Regions from separate parts of the Homo sapiens genome. Here all the other regions are linked to region 1. Evidence: fine-mapped expression QTL. A gene starts in region 1. Each other region holds a variant in brackets. All regions are shown on one strand. Distances are between the middles of the regions.

What was found. PIP is the estimated chance that this variant, and not a neighbour inherited with it, causes the effect.
Region 2: its variant is the best candidate, but not a certain one, in a credible set for the expression of IRS1 in thyroid (GTEx, PIP 0.73).
Region 3: its variant is the best candidate, but not a certain one, in a credible set for the expression of IRS1 in whole blood (INTERVAL, PIP 0.75).

The regions. Positions count from the first base shown.
Region 1 is chr2:226,797,216-226,802,647 of GRCh38, reverse strand. IRS1 (insulin receptor substrate 1) reads left to right here and starts at 2,828. Exons shown (of 2, transcript NM_005544.3): 1 at 2,828-5,432. The coding sequence starts at 3,910. It also overlaps a transcript of RHBDD1 not described here. RefSeq lists silencers at 1,290-1,499, 2,460-2,529, 2,550-2,969, 3,960-4,009 and an enhancer at 4,740-5,432.
Region 2 is chr2:226,660,510-226,665,941 of GRCh38, reverse strand. No RefSeq gene overlaps it. Among named protein-coding and RNA genes, the nearest start is that of MIR5702, 4.4 kb to the right of the region's middle. The variant A/G (reference allele first, on the strand shown) is at 2,284.
Region 3 is chr2:226,104,415-226,109,846 of GRCh38, reverse strand. No RefSeq gene overlaps it. Among named protein-coding and RNA genes, the nearest start is that of MIR5702, 550 kb to the left of the region's middle. The variant T/G (reference allele first, on the strand shown) is at 2,717.

The DNA of each region.
Region 1 (5,432 bases):
TTTTCAGTGGGGAGTAAATTTTTCATACAGTGTATTTCATTACAATACACCAAAAGACTAATTTAGCTTAGGTGACAGAATAATACCCATACCTGCTCAGCATTACTTCAGTGAGTTCCCACAAACGCGTCTCTTTCTATTCTATATATTACATGAACCAAATGTAAATGAATTTCCAGTTAGCCCATTAATAAAACAATTGTAGAGAACAATTGAATTTACTGTAGTATAATTATAACAAATATTAACCACCTTTAAATTGGTAGTAAAACATCAGCAAGTAGAAAAAATGGCACTAATATCCTATGATCAGTGATTATCTTCCATAGGAAACCCATTGGTCTGAACATAATTTGTCACAGCAGTGAGGCTTATTTCATAATTTTTATCGAATATTTAGCAACTGAAATTGTGTTTTTTAAAGCAGAAATGCTTTAACACTGAGAGATATATTTTTTAAAAGGTTTATTATCATAATTAGCTTTTTATGATCAAAATCCTTCCTATGAAGATAATTGTGAGGTACGTGCAAATAAATTTTCCAACCCTCCCCTCCTTCCAGAAAAGAGTATTTTTCCCCCATAGAGGTACAGTACCTTTATTTAGCTTTTTTTGGGGGGTGGGGGGTGGAGGGACGGAGGTAGGGACAGGGCCATTTGAAAAGTAAATGTCCATGGATTTGATTTGTTGTCTTACAAAATGTTAATTACTCCACTACCCCCATCCCAGCGCTAAACATCAAACCTGTGAAAAGCCCTTTGGCCTTATCTGGATTACATTGTTACTAGTAAACAACCCTTTTATAATCTCTCTTTTTTCTTGTCTAGGGTAAAACCAGGCACACAGTTACACTTTTCCACCAACTTCAGGCTTCTTTATTCTGCACCTCCCTGCCCTACCCCCTGTAAGGCACTCTATACCCCCAGAATTTCGGTCACTGTGAGTGCCGCCTCGCTTCCATTTCCAAATATCTGCTATTAATAGCCTTGCTGTAGTGGGCACGTGTGCCCACATCACCAAGCTGTCAGAGGAAAAGAAGGGAGGGCTTTCAATTCAACATGTGTACTCAAATTATAGATTAACCAGGTTTAGATGAGGCTGCATGACGACCGGGAACAGGAAGGGGAGAGGAGAAACGAGAGGCTCCCAGGCTTGGGTGGGGAGGAGCCCCTCTGCAGATGCCCAATCCCCCTAATTTACGTATCGCACACCCCTGAATGGCGCCTATGGTTCTTTTTCTCCTTCATCATCATCATCTTCTTTTTCTTTTTTTACTACGCTTTGCAACCTACCTTGGTACCCTCAACCCTTCTACCCCCACCTTCCCTCTGCAGTGCAAGGCTTGAAAAACAGGCCATCCCACCAATCAGCAGGCCTCCCCGGGAAACTCGCTCCGCCCCTCAGCCGCATTGGGCCGAGGCGCGCTCCCCCGCGGCCCGCCGGGTCCCAGCCACTGAGCATGCCCAGCGCCTCGACTGCTGAGTGCCCAGCCAGCATCCTGCAGTGCCTGGGAGCCTGAGGCCGAGGAGGGTCCCGGCGTAGTAAAGGGGCGGCAACCCCAAACGGGCCAGGCATCAAAATGAGACAGCATTAAACCGAGTGACATCTCTGTGGGTCCTTAGTGCCAGGCGAGCAAGCAGGGACAAACTGCTTGTTTATAGGTCGGCTTAAAAAATAAAAAAACTCTGGGGAGCGTTTGTTTGTGGGGAGACTGATACCGCAAGGTGACCCTGAAAGGGGCGCTTCAAGTAGACCCAGGCTGCTGATCTGGTCCACTCATGAAGTAACCATTTTCCTGTACAGTTGAGCTGGCACCATCCTTGTTTTCTCCCTGTTATCCTTGTGGTCAAGGTTAAAAACTTATAGGGTGGTTCAATGGGTGTGGGAGCTGTGTGTGAAACAAACATTTCAGCCAATATTTGCACAGTAGGGTTTTGGCCTTATGAACCCTCTGAAGGTCCCTAACAGCTTTTTAAAGTCACGGATAGACTTCGGAATATGATAAGGGACCTCTCATTTCCCCTCCCCCATGCCCTCAGCCTTAGGTGTGAGTCCCCCCGTCACACGGATGGGCAAGGGGAGCAGGAGAAAAGGTGATATTTACATTTTCTCCCTACTTGATCAGCAACTAATTCCACAGCGCCGGACGTGAGACACTTCCTGGGGATCCCTGTTCTCCTTTTGTAGTGACCATAACTGCCCCCAGTCACTGCCCTTGGGCGTCCCTCTGTTCCTTCCAGGTACCTCACGGCAGCAAATCTGGGGATCCCAAGGTGGAAGGCTGGCCCAGAAGTCCTTTAGAAAAACCTTAAAAAATACAGATCCCCTCACCATGGCCTATCGCCCTGAAGCCGAAATCTAGCTTTTAAATTTCCTGGGGGAAACAGCCTTGACTAGAAACCTCCCTCCCGTGGGTCAGTCTTACCTGATAGGTAAGAGGCAGCCCAGCTCCGGCGCCCCCGCCTCCCCCCGGCCTCCCACTCGGGGCTCTGTAGCCGCAGTGCCCCCCCGTGGCCCCCCACCCTCACTCCTGCGTCTTCCCGAGCTCGCCCCCTCCCGTTTTCCCAGACTCCCCTCGTGCTTTCGGGTAGCCACCCAAACACCCCCGCCTGCGCCCGCCGCGGGGATTCCTGCGGGCCGGGGGCGCCCCGGTTGGCGCGCGTGTAGGGAGGCGCTGCGCCGGAGCTGGCGGCCGCGCAGGGGCGCTGTCCTAGCGCTGCGCCGGGGTCGGCGCGGGCGCCGCTGCAGCACGGCTGGGGGGCGGAGAGGGGCGGGCGCGGGGCGGGCTCGGCCCGGAATGTAGAGACCCGGGCGGGAGCCTCCCGGCGGCGGCTGCCCGGCTGCCGAGCGCGGAGGCTCCGTCACGTGTTTTTCTCCTCCGAGTGAGACGGCGGCGCGGTCGGAGGGGGCCGGCGCGCAGAGCCAGACGCCGCCGCTTGTTTTGGTTGGGGCTCTCGGCAACTCTCCGAGGAGGAGGAGGAGGAGGGAGGAGGGGAGAAGTAACTGCAGCGGCAGCGCCTCCCGAGGAACAGGCGTCTTCCCCGAACCCTTCCCAAACCTCCCCCATCCCCTCTCGCCCTTGTCCCCTCCCCTCCTCCCCAGCCGCCTGGAGCGAGGGGCAGGGATGAGTCTGTCCCTCCGGCCGGTCCCCAGCTGCAGTGGCTGCCCGGTATCGTTTCGCATGGAAAAGCCACTTTCTCCACCCGCCGAGATGGGCCCGGATGGGGGCTGCAGAGGACGCGCCCGCGGGCGGCGGCAGCAGCAGCAGCAGCAGCAGCAGCAACAGCAACAGCCGCAGCGCCGCGGTCTCTGCGACTGAGCTGGTATTTGGGCGGCTGGTGGCGGCTGGGACGGTTGGGGGGTGGGAGGAGGCGAAGGAGGAGGGAGAACCCCGTGCAACGTTGGGACTTGGCAACCCGCCTCCCCCTGCCCAAGGATATTTAATTTGCCTCGGGAATCGCTGCTTCCAGAGGGGAACTCAGGAGGGAAGGCGCGCGCGCGCGCGCGCTCCTGGAGGGGCACCGCAGGGACCCCCGACTGTCGCCTCCCTGTGCCGGACTCCAGCCGGGGCGACGAGAGATGCATCTTCGCTCCTTCCTGGTGGCGGCGGCGGCTGAGAGGAGACTTGGCTCTCGGAGGATCGGGGCTGCCCTCACCCCGGACGCACTGCCTCCCCGCCGGGCGTGAAGCGCCCGAAAACTCCGGTCGGGCTCTCTCCTGGGCTCAGCAGCTGCGTCCTCCTTCAGCTGCCCCTCCCCGGCGCGGGGGGCGGCGTGGATTTCAGAGTCGGGGTTTCTGCTGCCTCCAGCCCTGTTTGCATGTGCCGGGCCGCGGCGAGGAGCCTCCGCCCCCCACCCGGTTGTTTTTCGGAGCCTCCCTCTGCTCAGCGTTGGTGGTGGCGGTGGCAGCATGGCGAGCCCTCCGGAGAGCGATGGCTTCTCGGACGTGCGCAAGGTGGGCTACCTGCGCAAACCCAAGAGCATGCACAAACGCTTCTTCGTACTGCGCGCGGCCAGCGAGGCTGGGGGCCCGGCGCGCCTCGAGTACTACGAGAACGAGAAGAAGTGGCGGCACAAGTCGAGCGCCCCCAAACGCTCGATCCCCCTTGAGAGCTGCTTCAACATCAACAAGCGGGCTGACTCCAAGAACAAGCACCTGGTGGCTCTCTACACCCGGGACGAGCACTTTGCCATCGCGGCGGACAGCGAGGCCGAGCAAGACAGCTGGTACCAGGCTCTCCTACAGCTGCACAACCGTGCTAAGGGCCACCACGACGGAGCTGCGGCCCTCGGGGCGGGAGGTGGTGGGGGCAGCTGCAGCGGCAGCTCCGGCCTTGGTGAGGCTGGGGAGGACTTGAGCTACGGTGACGTGCCCCCAGGACCCGCATTCAAAGAGGTCTGGCAAGTGATCCTGAAGCCCAAGGGCCTGGGTCAGACAAAGAACCTGATTGGTATCTACCGCCTTTGCCTGACCAGCAAGACCATCAGCTTCGTGAAGCTGAACTCGGAGGCAGCGGCCGTGGTGCTGCAGCTGATGAACATCAGGCGCTGTGGCCACTCGGAAAACTTCTTCTTCATCGAGGTGGGCCGTTCTGCCGTGACGGGGCCCGGGGAGTTCTGGATGCAGGTGGATGACTCTGTGGTGGCCCAGAACATGCACGAGACCATCCTGGAGGCCATGCGGGCCATGAGTGATGAGTTCCGCCCTCGCAGCAAGAGCCAGTCCTCGTCCAACTGCTCTAACCCCATCAGCGTCCCCCTGCGCCGGCACCATCTCAACAATCCCCCGCCCAGCCAGGTGGGGCTGACCCGCCGATCACGCACTGAGAGCATCACCGCCACCTCCCCGGCCAGCATGGTGGGCGGGAAGCCAGGCTCCTTCCGTGTCCGCGCCTCCAGTGACGGCGAAGGCACCATGTCCCGCCCAGCCTCGGTGGACGGCAGCCCTGTGAGTCCCAGCACCAACAGAACCCACGCCCACCGGCATCGGGGCAGCGCCCGGCTGCACCCCCCGCTCAACCACAGCCGCTCCATCCCCATGCCGGCTTCCCGCTGCTCGCCTTCGGCCACCAGCCCGGTCAGTCTGTCGTCCAGTAGCACCAGTGGCCATGGCTCCACCTCGGATTGTCTCTTCCCACGGCGATCTAGTGCTTCGGTGTCTGGTTCCCCCAGCGATGGCGGTTTCATCTCCTCGGATGAGTATGGCTCCAGTCCCTGCGATTTCCGGAGTTCCTTCCGCAGTGTCACTCCGGATTCCCTGGGCCACACCCCACCAGCCCGCGGTGAGGAGGAGCTAAGCAACTATATCTGCATGGGTGGCAAGGGGCCCTCCACCCTGACCGCCCCCAACGGTCACTACATTTTGTCTCGGGGTGGCAATGGCCACCGCTGCACCCCAGGAACAGGCTTGGGCACGAGTCCAGCCTTGGCTGG
Region 2 (5,432 bases), 140 kb after region 1:
AATTCTACCACCCAAAGGTCAAGGAGACAGCACACACATTTTGATTTTGATTGATAATCACAATTTGCTAACCATTAATAAATGGGATTAGGAGAGCTTACAAGGACTCTGCCTTTAACTACACCCCCAAATGTAAGATGGGCTGACCATCAATTATTACTTCTAAGCACTTTATTACTTTCTCACTGAGGTTTCAGTCGTTGGGTTGTGCAAGCACCACCAATAAAATGCAGTTTGTGGGAGGTGGGAGTTGGGAGATAGGAAAGACACTCTTTAAAACATACTTTGCCTAAGATAATTATAAACACTGAAGAATGATACAGACAAATTAACATCATAATCGATGGGAGTGGAAGACATGGTGATGATTTTCCCACAAGAAATACTTCTATTTTGGAATTCTCAGTGGTTTACAACTTTCTCTACCATGGGAGTCGATACAATTTTCATTTACTGACTCACTGTCCCTGGAGTCTTTTCCTCTGAATTTTAAACAACAACAAAAAACAGAAAATAAAGAATGGTGGAAGAGATGCAAAGCAAGGAAGAAAGAAAATGAGGGGAAAAAAGGAAATGAGAGAGAAAGAAGAAAAGGGGAGAAGAAAGGAGAGCAAAGGAAGAAGAGAAAAAATCAGTGTGCTGTTACAGAGACTGAAAGGATCATATTTTACTTTGTTCTAATGAAGTAAAATAAAAATGGAAAACATTTTGATTTAAAGGATCATTGAAAATAGCTCAAATTTGAGTGCTATTCAACCAGTGAGCCTCCTATTGACCTAATTGCAAGTGTTTATTGAGTATTTACTGTGTGTCTAACTTTGTGCCGGTTGTTGTGTGGTAGATTGGGGTTATCAATGGGTCAATGTCTGCTCCCTCAATGCTGTGAACTGGTTGGAGATGCTAAAAAGTTAGAGAATCAGACACCCTACAATCAAGAAGCAAAATCAATAGAGGGGCAGTTTATTTTAGTTCTGTAGGTTCTGGGAAGAACAAAAAGGAGTGGCCCAGTCAGACACTTTTGGGAAGTTTTGCATACTACTTCTTCTAGGAGAATCACAGCACATATCATCATATTAAAATTTCTCTCTTGCGATAGAGCTGCCTGGGTCCCTCAAAAGCAGAGACTTCCAAACATTGTGAGTGTAAAATTTATTAGCAAGTGTAAATGCAGAGGGCAGGGCAAGAAGCAAAGCAGAGTGAGAAAGGGAAGGAAAAGAGGTCAACACAAGAATGTGTCACTGAGTCGGCCACCATGAAGGGCACCTGGTGCTCAACACTGTGGGGCTTTCTGCCAAATAAAAATAAAACCTGGGAAAGCAGGGCAAAAAGTTCAGAAAGAGGGACTGGAATCTTGGGAACTATCATTTGAGCCTCTGACTAGGGCCCCATCAACTGTCTCTTGGAATTGTCCCCGTAGGAGGCAAAAGGGGAGCATTTACCCATTGGCTCCTGAACCACCTTGGTCAAGGGTGATTCCCATGTGTATTGGCTCCCTGTACCTCTGGGTGGCCCCTCCATGATGGCTGGGCAGTTCCCATGGAAGAACTGGGCGGCAGGGTCAGAGAAACCCAAGGCAGGAAGAGAGAGGCTCTAGGCATTGGGCCAAAGTGAGGCATTGCCAGCTGGCACCTGGGAGAGCCTGGTCAAAGCCTGGCAGAACTGGACTCTGAAAGAAGTGGCTGGAGGAAGAGGTGGGCCCAAGAGGATGCATAAGTTGTACACAAGTGTAGGCCAATCCAGACAACTATTTAAGTTTTAAAATTTCTAATCTGCCGTCCCAGTTGAATTATTATCCTGCTGAATATGTTTTGATAAACATAAGAATGCTTTCTTTGAGAGATAGGTGCAGGAATTGGTCCAACATCAGATATGGCCTATCCAGGGGATCAGATAACGTTTCTCACATCTTTTATTTATTTATTTATTTATTTATTTATTTTTAATCTTTGCTTTGCTATGTTTTGTTTTCATCTACCAGCGGCTCTTTTTCCACATGGCAGGAAATATGGATCCTGGCAACTCCCTCTGGGTCATTTGTCCTACTCTTTCCTTTTGCTCCTGGGCACACAATTAGACTATTTTTCCTGGCCTTCCTTGCAATTAGGTGGGCGCATACAATGGTTTCTGATTAATGAGAGGTGGGCAGAAGAGATGCGTGTCACTCCCTCCCAGGAGTCTTCACCTCAGGTCTCTTTCCCCCAGCTGCCAGGAAGCTGCAGGGGATTCAATGAGGACTCCATGGTTTAGGGGATACAGGGAGACTTGGTGGAAGGCCACCAGCAT[A/G]TACCCACATTGGGCCATTAAGTGAGTAAACAAGCCAACAAAAACCGACCTCTACAGTGTTAAGCCACTACAATTTTGGTGTTGTTTGTTACAGCAGTTAGCTTGCCCTGGCTAATACACTTCTCATGATCCATATATCAGTATCCATTTTCAAAAAAATATCTCATTACTTCAATTTGGGTCACTTGACTACTCTCTGGACTAATCAGAGTTTCCAGGAAGTTGGGGGAAGGTAGGGACTTTTAACCCCCAGCAGAAACATGTGGAATGGGAATAGATGGTTTATAAGATGAAGAAAGAAGGGACAGGAGGAAAAAGAAAAGATGACATGGCAGTTGTTACAGGATCAACCCTAGAAGGCAAGGCATCTGCTATGATTTGAATGTGTCCTGCAAAAGTTTATGTGATCCACAATGCGGCAGTGTTGAGAGGTGGGACATCTGAGGGGTGATGGAGTCATTATTGGATTAATGGATTAATAGGCAATTGAGGGAGTGGGTTAGTTATCACAACAGTGGGTCTGTTAAAAAAGCCAGTTTGGTTGTCTGTCATGAAGTCCTTGCTATGTAATGCCCTGCACCACCTGGGTTCCCTGCAGAGTCCCCTCCAGCAAGAAAGCCCTCGCCAGATGCAGCCCCTCAACCTTGGATTTCTCAGCCTCCAGAACTATAAGAAACAAGTGTTTTCTCTTTATAAATTACCCAGTCTCAGTCATTTGGTTATAGCAACAGAAAATCAGCTAAGACAGCATTGGAGTCCAGACTCAGCTGTGCCATAACCTATGTGTGCAGCCCTGGGCCTGGTACTCACCCAATATGGGCCTTGCCTCCTTGGTACCATAAAAGAATTGGTTTAGATGGTCTTTCATGCCTTTTTAAACTTTGAGATTATTTAGTCATAAAATGATCAAAAATTAAACTGGACAGATTCTACTCTTTTCTGGGTAGACTGAGTGGTACTTCAGAGGATCTTTCTGCCCCTCATTTTCACAAGTGTCATGGGAAACATGGGTCTTTGCCACCCATTCTCGGCACTGTCTTCTACTAGGCCAGTGAATCCAAGCGACGGCTGTGGAAGGTGCACATCCAGAGTATTGCAATCACCCACGTGCCAGGCAGAGGAAAAACACAGGTGGCTCTTCTGCTGCCTCTGCACCTGCAAGGCAGATGATCTCTCATCACAACTTAATTCTCAGACAGGGTGCTTTGAATGGAGGCAGCAAGGGAGTCCAGGGTCAGAGCTGTTTCCCTTGTGGATGGTTTCCGTGGTGGCCCCATCTCAGAGATCTCCATCTGTCTTCCTGAACAGTGGGTGTTCTGGAGGAAATAGTTATCCTGCACACTTGATGGATGGATATTTACTCAGGAAGGGGATTTATTCCAGATTTAGAGATGGCAGAGGCAGGTCAGTTCCATCGTGGGCAGCCATGTGCAGTGGCCTTGTGGGCAGAACTGAGAACAGAGGGACCCAGTGAGAGGACATTTCGAGGAGCATGCCATATTGTCCTGAAAGGGGCCAGGCAGTGAGAAATGACATTTAGAGGGATTTATAGGCAAAACAACAAGGTGCTAAAAATAAACAGTAATACTCATGCAGTGAGTCACTTTAGAGGCATGTATAAATTCTTCGCTGACACCGTAAGAACGTGGGAGAACTTAGCACATGAGGAGAGAGCGGGGAATGGAATTGGCGTGGACGGGGGAGGCGCAGATGACCTGCTAGTTGGTTCTGGCTAGATGATCTCTGCCCCACTTCTGTGAGGAGGCATCTGTAGTCACAGATAGAAGGAGTGGTGGTATTTTTAAAGTGAACTGTTGCGATGATATCTGCTTAGCTTTCTCATGCTAATCTCTTTCTGTGGTAAGTCCTTCTAAAGTTATTGATTCATAGCAGGGGTTGCACTTTAAATCTAAGGGATCTCTGCATGTTAGGAAGATTAAGGGGTGGGGAGTAGAGTTCACACACGTTGGCATGAGGGGCCACATTGTGTCTTGGGAGAAGGATGTCGTTGAGAAAAAGGCTGGGTTCGTGTTCTAAGTTCAATAGAAAACAACTCAGCATTCTGGGGGCAGGGTTAGTGTACAGGAACTACTCTCTTGGTGACTTTTTGGAAACGGATCCTATAAACACGTATTTGAGCTGGTGGGGTGTGTGTGTGTGTGTGTGTGTGTGTGTGTGTGTGTGTTTGGAAACGAAACACATGGGGAGAGTGACATTCATTAAAAATGTCTGGCCGAGCGTGGTGGCTCACGCCTGTAATCCCAGCACTTTGGGAGGCTGAGGCAGGTGGATCACGAGGTCAAGATATCGAGACCATCTGGCCAACATGGTGAAACCCCGTCTCTACTAAAAATACAAAAATTAGCCGGGCGTGGTGGCATGCACCTGTAGTCCCAGCTACTCGGGAGGCTGAGGCAGGAGAATCGCCTGAACCGGGGAGGCGGAGGTTGCAGTGATCCGAGATCGTGCCACTGCACTCCAGCCTGGTGACAGAGAGAGACGCTGTCTCAAAAAAAAAAAAAAAAAGTCTAAGGCATTCTTTCCTCCCTTAATTCCTTTCCTTCCCTAATTATTTGTTGAGCACCTACTATGTTCCAGGGCTGGCACTTGTCCTTGGAGCCTAGTGATAGGTACTCATCCTGCTTATATTTGAGGGGAACAAGATCCAGATGTACAAGGTAAAGCAAGCAAATGTCAGCTGGTGATGAAGACATAATCAGGTTAATGAAACTGACAGGGATTAGGGGCATGTGGGGGTGGGATTTCTTGGTGAAACTTGAGAGATGACAAAGAGCCAACCCTGCAAGGAGCAGAGTGTTTCAAGCAGTGAGAATGATGATTGCAGAGGCCCCAAGGAGGGAAGGAATTGGCATGCTCTGTGACCTGAAAGGAGGCCAGAGAGGATGAAGCAATAATGAACAGGGTTAGAGACAGGAAGTGAACTGGTCATTTGGAGCAGGGTTTCTCAGCTGCAATGCTACTATTGGCATTTGGGACTGGAAAATTCTGTTGTTGGGAACCAGGCTGTGTATTAGACGACATTTTGCAGCATTCCTGGCCTCTACCCACTAGATGCAAGTAGTTTTCCCCCAGCTGTGACTGCCACAAATGTCCTTTGGAGTTGAGAATGACTGGTTTGGGCTGTAAGC
Region 3 (5,432 bases), 690 kb after region 1:
TAACTTTCTGTCTCATTGATCTGTCTAATGTTGACAGTGGGGTGTTAAAGTCTCCCATTATTATTGTGTGGGAGTCTAAGTCTCTTTGTAGGTCTCTAAGGACTTGCTTTATGAATCTGGGTGCTCCTGTGTTGGGTGCATATATATTTAGGATACTTAGCTCTTCTTGTTGAATGGATCCCTTTACCATTATGTAATGGCCTTCTTTGTCTCTTTTGATCTTTGTTGGTTTACAGTCTGTTTTATCAGAGACTAGGATTGCAACCCCTGCCTTTTTTTGTTTTCCATTTGCTTGGTAGATCTTCCTCCATCCCTTTATTTTGAGCCTATGTGTGTCTCTGCATGTTAGATGGGTTTCCTGAATACAGCACACTGATGGGGCTTGACTCTTTATCCAATTTGCCAGTCTGTGTCTTTTAATTGGAGCACTTAGCCCATTTACATTTAAGGTTAATATTGTTATGTGTGAATTTGATCCTGTCATTATGATGTTAGCTGGCTATTTTGCTCGTTAGTTGATGCAGTTTCTTCCTAGCCTTGACGGTCTTTACAATTTGGCTTGTTTTGCAGTGGCTGGTACTGGTTGTTCCTTTCCATGTTTAGTGCTTCCTTCAGGAGCTCTTTTAGGGCAGGCCTGGTGGTGACAAAATCTCTCAGCATTTGCTTGTCAGTAAAGTATTTTATTTCTCCTTCACTTATGAAGCTTAGTTTGGCTGGATATGAAATTCTGGGTTGAAAATTATTTTCTTTAAGAATGTTGAATATTGGCCCCTACTCTCTTCTGGCTTGTAGAGTTTCTGCCGAGAGATCAGCTGTTAGTCTGATGGGCTTCCCTTTGTGGGTAACCTGACCTTTCTCCCTGGCTGCCCTTTATATTTTTTCCTTCATTTCAACTTTGGTGAATCTGACAATTATGTGTCTTGGAGTTGCTCTCCTCAAGGAGTATCTTTGTGGCGGTCTCTGTATTTCCTGAATTTGAATGTTGGCCTGCCTTGCTAGATTGGTGGGGAAGTTCTCCTGGATAATATCCTGCAGAGTGTTTTCCAACTTGGTTCCATTCTCCCCATCACTTTCAGGTACACCAATCGACGTAGATTTGGTCTTTTCTTGGATAGCCCCATATTTCTTGGAGGCTTTGTTCGTTTATTTTTATTCTTTATCCTCTAAACTTCTCTTCTCACTTCATTTCATTCATTTGAGCTTCCGTCACTGATACCCTTTCTTCCAGTTGATCGAATCGTCTACTGAGGCTTGTGCATTCATCTCGTAGTTCTCGTGCCTTGGTTTTCAGCTCCATCAGGTCCTTTAAGGACTTCTCTGCATTGGTTCTTCTAGTTAGCTATTCCTCTAATTTCTTTTCAAGGTTTTTAACTTCTTTGCCATGGGTTTGAACTTCCTCCTTTAGCTCAGAGTAGTTTGATCGTCTGAAGCCTTCTTCTCTCAACTCGTCAAAGTCATTCTCCATCCAGCTTTGTTCCATTGCTGGTGAGGAGCTGCGTTCCTTTGGAGGAGGAGAGGCACTCTGATTTTTAGAGTTTCCAGTTTTTCTGTTCTGTTTTTCCCCCATCTTTGTGGTTTTATCTACCTTTGGTCTTTGAAGATGGTGATGTGCAGATGGGGTTTTGGTGTGGATGTCCTTTCTATTTGTTAGTTTTCCTTCTAATAGTCAGGACCCTTAGCTGCAGGTCTGTTGGAGTTTGCTGGAGGTCCACTCCAGACCCTGTTTGCCTGGGTATCAGCAGCAGAGGCTGCAGAACAGCGGATATTGGAGAGCAGCAAATGTTGCTGCCTGATCGTTCCTCTGGAATTTTTGTCTCAGAGGATTACCCGGCCATGTGAGGTGTCAGTCTGCCCCTACTGGGGCTGCCTCCCAGTTAGGCTACTTGGGGGTCAGGGACCCACTTCAAGAGGCAGTCTGTCCATTCTCAGTTCTCCAGCTGTGTGCTGGGAGAACCACTACTCTCTTCAAAGCTGTCAGACAGGGACATTTAAGTCTGCAGAGGATTCTGCTGCCTTTTGTTTGGCTATTCCCTACCCCCAGAGGTGGAGTCTACAGAGGCTGGCAGGCCTCCTTGAGCTGCAGTGGGCTCCACCCAGTTAGAGCTTCCCAGCAGCTTTGTTTACTTACTCAAGCCTCAGCAATGGCAGGCGCCCCTCCCACAGCCTTGCTGCCACCTTGCAGTTTGATCTCAGACTGCTGTGCTAGCGATGAGCGAGGCTCCGTGGGCATAGGACCCTCTGAGCCAGGCACGGGATATAATCTCCTGGTGTGCCGTTTGCTAAGACCGTTGGAAAAGCGCAGTAATGGGTGGGAGTGACCCGATTTTCCAGGTGCCATCTGTCACCCCTTTCTTTGACTAGGAAAGGCAATTCCCTGACCCCTTGTGCTTCCCAGGTGAGGTGATGCCTTGCCCTGCTTTGGCTCAGTCCTGCACCCCGTTCCTGACACTCCCCAGTAAGATGAGCCCAGTACCTCAGTTGGAAATGCAGAAATCACCCATCTTCTGCCTCGCTCATGCTGGGAGCTGTAGACTGGAGCTGTTCTTATTTGGCCATCTTGGCTCCACCCCACCCCCCCATTTAATTCTTATATGTAATAAACTTTGATTTTCTTAGTAACATGCCAATATACAGAAAGTTTCAGATCTAAGACATATAAATAATATCAGAATAGAAATTAGAAAAGAAAAATAAATGTAATTAGGAGTTCTGATAT[T/G]TGTTACATGATTTTTTCTTATATATTTTACTTTGGGGTTGAAACTAAGAAAAAAAAATGCCCTGATAATTTGTAATTACAAGCTAAGATTCATGCAGAAACTCAGCCACATTCTTACTACTTGGGTAATTTAAGAATAAGCTTAAAGGAGTCTCAGTCTGTGAATACAACCCAGGTTACTGGAAGAGGCAAATATATATCACTCTGGAAGATTCCCCTTTATTCCAGTCTTCTAAGAATTCTTATAGATAATGTGTCAAGAAAAATGAGCAGGTTACAGCTAAGAACCCACAAAACAGTTAAGGAAAAAGGCATCATAGAGAGAGCAGAAGAAATATCACATAGAGCTAACATTGATTTGTGAAGTTTCAGATATTTAACTATTAGACACAGTTTGCAAATTATCTAGTATTTGACATTTTAAAGAAATTATGTTAGATATTTAAAATGGGAAAATGGGAAAAATTCATTACCAAGTGACAAATAGAACTTCTGTAGATGACAACTATAATATTTGCAATTTAAAAACTCAATGAATAGATTTATAGTAGATTAGACACTGTTGAAGAGAAAATTAATGAACTGGAATGAATATATAAATAAATTATCCAAAATATAGCAATTCTACACTTAGATTTAGATGTGGATACACAGACATAGATATCTGTGGCTCTTAAAATAAGTAATAGAATATTTGACAAATAAATTAAGAGACAAGGTAGATTTTGTAAGATATTTGAGCTAAATCTAATCAAGGTTCCAAGGAACAGGGAAACAGATACATAAAATATTTGAATTTATGTAAATTCTCCTAAACACTTATGAACTATCTCTGCAGAAAATCTACAGCATCCCATGTTCCTCATTTTTTAAGTACAATTAGTCTTTATTTTTTATTTCTGCATTTATGTCATCACTATCATTCCATGCAGCCCCTTCACCACACATTAGATGGTGGACTTTTTGTTGTTAGAGTTTGTATTGTTTTCATGTTGGCATTCCCATTCATCCCCAATACAGTGCTATATACTTAGGGCAGTAAATAATTATTTTCTTAATTTAATTTAAGTTTTGTAGGATGGATCACCGCAGTCTGATCTATGTCTACACAATTCAGTACAATCACTTGTTCTCAGTATTTCTGTAAGGAAGGAGACACTGTGGGCATAGGAAGACCAATGATGTTACAGCATAAGCTTTGAGATATCTGACTCTTTATGGTTGCTTAAATATATCTCATTAGTCCATGTTTATTCCGTTTTAGTTACCTACAATGTAAAATGTATTGCATTCTTTCAGAAATGTGTATTTTTAATATTCTAGTGGTTTGGAGGTTATTAAAGTAATTAATTGAGCTGAGTTAATAGCATAAAACATTTAAGGACATTTCTCAGAAAAAAAGAAAAAGATACATATATTTATATGTAGTAGATGGTGTTTAAGATGTAATTCAGAACAAATTTCATGGCTATATTACAAATCTCTAAATATAGTTGCTAAATGAAATATTTCAAGCATCAAGAGAATAATCAACCAATTTATCAAATTCTAGCATTTTTAAATATTAACCTTATATTTTTTTAAGCCAACGGATGTCATAGGTATATTAGAAGACTGTCATTTGCCTACCTCCATCAAATGAGATCACTTTAATAGAAACTCTGACCCTGATTTAACTACAGGAACATAAACAGTACTACTATAATATAACAGAAGTATAAAACATTATAAAAAATGACAGTAGGTCAAAAAAATCCCCTTCAGGTTAAGGAGAGTTAGATATTTATTTAATACACTGAAAAAGCCCATTGCTTGATTGTTGACTGCTCACATGTTTTTATTTCACTATTTAAACTCCAGACATTCATTTTTAGGGGAACTCATCTATAATTTGAGTTGAAATTATAAGAATGTGGGGATTAATAAAATGCTTGTAGAGTTGGCTGCAAACATACCACCTGATTTTATATAATTAGAGATGACAGACACTGAGGCTCAATGAATAATACGCTTTCTATCTGTATCAAATAGGGTGTGAAAAATAGGTAGAATAATACTAGTGGAAAAAATACATGTAATTTATTAAACAAAAAATAGGGTTGTGTTAGTCTTATTTTTCAACAGCTAAGTCATTGCTTTCATCCTGGTTTATCATACATCATAAAAAACACTGCACTTTCTGAAAATCCTAACTGAATATCACTGTATTAGTCAGGGTTCTCTAGAGGGACAGAAGTAATGGGATATATATATATATATATATATATATATATATATTTTTTTTTTTTTTTTATTAAGGAGTTTATTAAGGAGAATTAAACTCACATGATCACAAGATCCCACAATAGGCCATCTGCAAGCTGAGGAGCAAAGAAGCCAGTCCAAGTCCCAAAGCTGAGGAACTTGGAGTCCGTTGTTCAAGGGCAGGAAGCATCCAGCACGGAAGAAAGATGTAGGCTGGGAAGCTAGGCCAGTCTAGTCTTTTCACATTCTTCTGCCTGCTTTTATCCTAGCTGAGCTGGCGGCTGATTAGATTGTGTCCACCCAGATTAAGGGTGGGTATGCCTTTCCCAACCCACTGACTCAAATGTTAATCTCCTTTGGCAACACCCTCACAGACAGGCTCAAGATCAATACTTTGCATCCTTCAATCAAATAAAGTTGACCCACAGTATTAACCACCACAATCACAATATATGGGAATGAAGATAATTAA